Linked DNA regions of Homo sapiens: region 1 is linked to region 2. Evidence: fine-mapped expression QTL. A gene starts in region 2. The other region holds a variant in brackets. All regions are shown on one strand. Distances are between the middles of the regions. Region 1 overlaps WRN (WRN RecQ like helicase). Region 2 holds the start of WRN (WRN RecQ like helicase).

Region 1 (2,500 bases), 96 kb after region 2:
AAAGTGGGAGAATTTGATATAATTTTAAGTTATTGGTAGGGTAAACAATCCAAAAATTAGTACACTGTAGAAAATTTGGTCAACATAGTAATAAGTTTGCTTATTACTATTTATCAGTATACATAGTATACTGATTTATCAGATACATAGTATATGGAGCCCTAGAGCAAGCAACTATAGCAGTGTATCTCAAGTATTTTTACTTCATGACCCACATAGCAAATGATATGTGTATATAACACACTGGGCTAATTGTCAGAGTTCAGTTTCTGTCCAAAACCCTAAGATCTGGAGTGATTAACCTTTCAGCACTCTTAGAACTCACTTGTTTGTAGCACACTGATTGAGAAGCACTGAAAGACTTCACTCCTCAAACATACATGGAATATTTCTAAAAACTATGTATTGGGCCGGGTGCAGTGGCTCATGCCTGTAATCCCAGCACTTTGGGAGGCCGAGGCGGGTGGATCCCGAGGTCAGGAGATCGAGACCATCCTGGCTAACATGATGAAACGCCGTCTCTACTAAAAATACAAAAAATTAGCCGGATGTGGTGGCGAGTGCCTGTAGTCCCAGCTACTCGGGAGGCTGAGGCAGGAGAATGGTGTGAACCCAGGAGGCGGAGCTTGCAGTGAGCCGAGATCGCGCCACTGCACTCCAGCCTGGGCAACAGAGCGAGACTCTGTCTCAAAAAAAACCAACCAACTGAACAAACAAAAAAACTAAAAAACAAAAACAAAAAAACTATGTATTAGAGCATGGGTTGGCAAACTATGGCCTGTAGGCCAAATCTGCATGCTGTTTTATTTTTTTTTATTTTTTTGACATAGGGTCACTACAGGCTGTCACACAGGCTGGAGAGCAGTGGTATGATCATAGCTCACTGTAACCTCAAATTCCTGGGCTCAAGCAATTCTCTTGCCTCACCTCAGCTTCCCAAGTAGCTACAGGCATGCACTACCAGACCCAGTTAATTAAAACAAATTTTTTTTTGGTAGAGACAGTCTCAGTATGTTGCCCAGGCTGGTTTTCAAACTCCTTGCCTCAATCAGTCCTCCTACTTCAGCCTCCTAAAGTGCTGGGATTATAGGCATGAGCCATCACGCTTGACTAATGTTTTTGTAAATAAAGTTTTCTCAGAACACAGCCATGCCTTTTGTTTATGTGTTATGTAGGGCTGCCTGAGTTAAGTAGTTGGCTGCAAAGCCTATCATGGCCTATAAAGCCTGAAATACTTACTATCTGGTCCTTTATAGAAAGTGTTTTCTGACCCTGTACTAGACTAGCTTGTCTCAAAATTCTTCAATGAATTTGGAAGTTTTCTCACCACATTTTCTGACCATAATGCACTTGAGTTAGAAGTAAATAAGC[A/G]GATAAACAACAAAATCCTCATGCATTTGGAAATTAAAAATAACACTTAAATAATTCATATTCAAAGAAAAAATCAAACTGGAAATTAAAAAAAATTTTAAACCTACAGATAACTACATTAATATGCATTAACATTTTTAGAACTTAGGGATAGTTACAATGATATACATTAAAACTGGTAAGAGGCTGGGTGCGTTGGCTCACGCCTGTAATCCCAGCACTTTGGGAGGCCGAGGCTGGGGGATCACGAGGTCAAGAGATTGAAACCATCCTGGCCAACATGGTGAAACCCCGTCTCTACTAAAAATACAAAAATCAGCTGGGCGTGGTGGCACGCGCCTGTAGTCCCAGCTACTTGGGAGGCTGAGGCAGGAGAATCGCTTGAACCTGGGAGGCGGAGGTTGCCGTGAGCCGAGATTGGGCCACTGCACTCCAGCCTGGCGACAGAGCGACACTCTTGTCTCAAAAAAAAAACAAAACAAAACAAAAAAAAAAACTAGTAAGAGGGCCCAGTGGCTCACACCTGTCATTCTAGCTCTTTGGGAGACTGAGGAGAGAGGATCAGTTGAGGCCAGGATTCAAGACCAGTCTGGGCAACATAACGAGACCGCATCTCTACAAAATTTTAATAACAACAACAAAAAAAACTGGTAAGAGGCAACATTGAATAGTACTTTGTGGGAGTTTATTAGCTTGAAATACTCATAATAGAAAAGAAAATTAATCAGCTAAGCATCTCACTAAAGAGATTAGGAGAATAAACCTAAGCATAGTTTTTTTCCCCCAAACATTATTATATCTGGAATATTGAATGCATTCTTATTGCTATTTCAAAGATACTTACTCTAAGGAAAGCAATTGAATTAGGTAGTTGAACTCTATAGTAGATTTTCTTTAATGAGTCCTTTTGTTCTCAACCTACTTAAATAATTCTCATTTGAATTTATGATAGTTTCAGATCTACCCAAAGGGTGACTTAGGAATTTAACTTCTAAATCTATTTAAATGAAAGGTTTATAATCTTTTTGTCATATTTTACAGTCGTTAGCGTTTAACAATTTATAGCATAGGATTTGGGTTTTTTTTTTTTTTTCATTTTAAAGAAGAAGTTTATTTAAGCAAGACACTT
Region 2 (3,020 bases):
TTTTCAGGACACTGTGAGGATGCTCTTCGGACCCCACCGAGACTGGTGGGGAGGGTGCCGAGTGCTTCTGCCTCCTTCTGGAGCCTTGCTCTTTGCTGTGGCCATGCTCTTGCCGGTGGCCTTTCAGGCCCAGGTGGGCATAGTGCTCGATGAAGTCCCCTAGACAGTCCTTCAGCTCCGCTGCCACAGACAGGGAGAGGGTCAGTTTACTCTTTCTGATGTTGTCCTGCCGGCCTCTCCCTATCCAGACTTCGGCTATCTTTAGGAAGCGGCCCCGGGAGCTTTGCTTCACGTCTAGGTAAAACCTCTTTTTCTGGATGTCCACTCGTTTGGAGGCCAGCTCCTGGATTTCGGCTGCGCCCCCGGCCTGATTAGGGGTGGCTGAGGCCGCGTAGTGGGGGTAGTGGGAGTGCTGGGCCTGGGGATAGAGTCTACTCTTGCTTAGGCCAGAGCCCCCTACATTCTTGCCTCCGCGGCCGCGGCCGCCGCCGCCTCCCCTTCGCCTGGCTCTTTCCATCTTCAGCTGCAAGTAACAAACAGACACACGGGATGGGGTGGGGGAGGGGTGTTGAGAACAATCGCAGACGCCCCTCGGCCTGACCGCCCCGCCGCCGCCCGCGACCCCCACGCCGGGCCCGGCTCCCCCGGCGCCGCAGCGCGGGGCTCCAGCCACTGCCGGCCGGTTGGCGGCCGCCGCTCCGGCTCTGCCCGCGCTCCCCGCATCCCTCCGCCGCCCCCGGGGCCGCTCCCGCACGCCGCCGCCGCCCGTCCCGCGCTCCGCGGCCCCAGGTCTCCAGCCGGCGGGCACTCACATCATCTCTGCCATCACCGCCGCCGCCGATGCCCTTCACGACCACCGCCGCCGCCACCGCCAGCTCTCGGCCCCTCTGCTGCAGCCGCCGCAGCCGCCGCCCCCCGCCTCCTCCCCCGCCGCCGCCGCTCGCACTGCCCCCCGCCGGAGCAGCCGGGCAGGGGCATCGCCCGCGGCGCCCACCGCAGCCGCCCCTCCTGCGGCCGCTGCGGGGGCCGCCGCCTGACTTCGGACACCGGCCCCGCACCCGCCAGGAGGGGAGGGAAGGGGAGGCGGGGAGAGCGACGGCGGGGGGCGGGCGGTGGACCCCGCCTCCCCCGGCACAGCCTGCTGAGGGGAAGAGGGGGTCTCCGCTCTTCCTCAGTGCACTCTCTGACTGAAGCCCGGCGCGTGGGGTGCAGCGGGAGTGCGAGGGGACTGGACAGGTGGGAAGATGGGAATGAGGACCGGGCGGCGGGAATGTTCTCACTTCTCCGGATTCCACCGGGATGCAGGACTCTAGCTGCCCAGCCGCACCTGCGAAGAGACTACACTTCCCGAGGTGCTCAGCGGCAGCGAGGGCCTCCACGCATGCGCACCGCGGCGCGCTGGGCGGGGCTGGATGGGCTGTGGTGGGAGGGTTGCAGCGCCGCGAGAAAGGCGAGCCGGGCCGGGGGCGGGGAAAGGGGTGGGGCAGGAACGGGGGCGGGGACGGCGCTGGAGGGGCGGGTCGGGTAGGTCTCCCGGAGCTGATGTGTACTGTGTGCGCCGGGGAGGCGCCGGCTTGTACTCGGCAGCGCGGGAATAAAGTTTGCTGATTTGGTGTCTAGCCTGGATGCCTGGGTTGCAGGCCCTGCTTGTGGTGGCGCTCCACAGTCATCCGGCTGAAGAAGACCTGTTGGACTGGATCTTCTCGGGGTAAAGTGTCTTCCTATTCCCGTTTTCCCAGCTCCGTGCCCCGGGGTATCTATAGTGCTAGGCTTCTGAGACACGTGGAGGCGCTTAGGCCCGCGGAGCAGGCCCCTGGGCTGTGTTTGGGAGATTCTGGAAAAACAGACTTTCTCCCTTTTCCTTTCCCCTCTGGAGCAGCTGGGAAAGGCGTCTCTCGGAGCTTCCGCCATTCAGAAAGTGTTTCCCCGCCCCTGACGGCCCCAGCTTGATGTTTACCTTGCGCGCTTAGTTAGGATTGCTCTTTCTAGTACGGCCTTTATTATGGCAGAAATTGAGCCACTACAGGTCTGCACAGCAAAGTCGAGGGAAATAACCTGCTGTCTATGATTTAGCAAGTGATGATGGATATTTTTGAGTTCAAATCACTCAGTCTTTAATGGATTTTCTTTTCTTTTTTTCCTAGTTGAATCTCAGTTGTTCTCAGGCTAGGTTTGATATGAAAAATACTACTCCCTATTGAAGAGGGTAATATAATTCTTAGGATGCTAATACAGGAGTCTGTAAGTCGGAGTACTTCAGGCTTTTTATGGTTCGGTACATTTCTTTTTAGGGGTGGGATATTGGGATAAGTAGGACAGTTCAGATCTTGATGTCATTGAATAGTGGTGTCTACCTAAAAGGAAGAGGCTGGGGCACAAAATTATAATTTAAAGTGTTTACTTCAGCCAAAATGAGGACAGCTGCCCAGGACTCATTTCCCAGTTGCCTTGGGGAGTGCTCCTTCAGCCTTGGTTACAAGCAGGTTTTTAAAGGCGAAGGGGAAGAGTGGGCTGAGACAAAGTTGGTCAGGAATTGTTATTGGTTTACAGAGATACCATTGCTTAGTGATTGGCTGTACACTGTAACTCATAGGGTATGAGTTATCGTGTCCAGCATATGGCATTTTATGGCTTCTTGGTTCCAGTCTAGAGCCCATATAGCAGGTGGGCTTTAAGAGATAATTATCCAGCTCAGACCGGGAGTGAGACGGGACTGTTTTTTCATTCTAATGCCTCTCTGGGCCTGATAATTTAAAGGGGCTTGCATTCTTCAGCTAAAATTTTATTTTCTTTTATTTTTTTTCCCCCACAGTGGTCTCCCTTTATTAATCCAACAAATGTTTATTAAGGACTGCTCTAGGCACTAGAGATACCAACAATGAACAAAACAGACAAACATCTCTCTCCTTTTGGAGCTTACATTTTAGTGGAAAGAGACAGGCAAAAAGTAAAATTATAGGATGACAGAAGGTGAAAATAGAGATTAAAAAGGAAAGGGGGATGAAGAGTGTGTGTGTGTG

The links. PIP is the estimated chance that this variant, and not a neighbour inherited with it, causes the effect. A credible set is the group of variants that fine-mapping cannot tell apart.
Region 1: its variant is the best candidate, but not a certain one, in a credible set for the expression of WRN in whole blood (INTERVAL, PIP 0.51).

Annotation. Positions count from the first base shown.
Region 1 is chr8:31,128,170-31,130,669 of GRCh38, forward strand. All of the region lies in intron 23 of WRN (WRN RecQ like helicase), which reads left to right. Among named protein-coding and RNA genes, the nearest start is that of WRN, 96 kb to the left of the region's middle. The variant A/G (reference allele first, on the strand shown) is at 1,372.
Region 2 is chr8:31,032,266-31,035,285 of GRCh38, forward strand. WRN (WRN RecQ like helicase) reads left to right here and starts at 1,545. Exons shown (of 35, transcript NM_000553.6): 1 at 1,545-1,708. It overlaps PURG (purine rich element binding protein G), which reads right to left and starts at 1,091. Exons shown (of 2, transcript NM_001323311.2): 1 at 813-1,091; 2 at 1-523. The coding sequence starts at 517. RefSeq lists silencers at 1,073-1,122, 1,283-1,542, 2,513-2,582 and enhancers at 1,298-1,819, 2,653-2,702.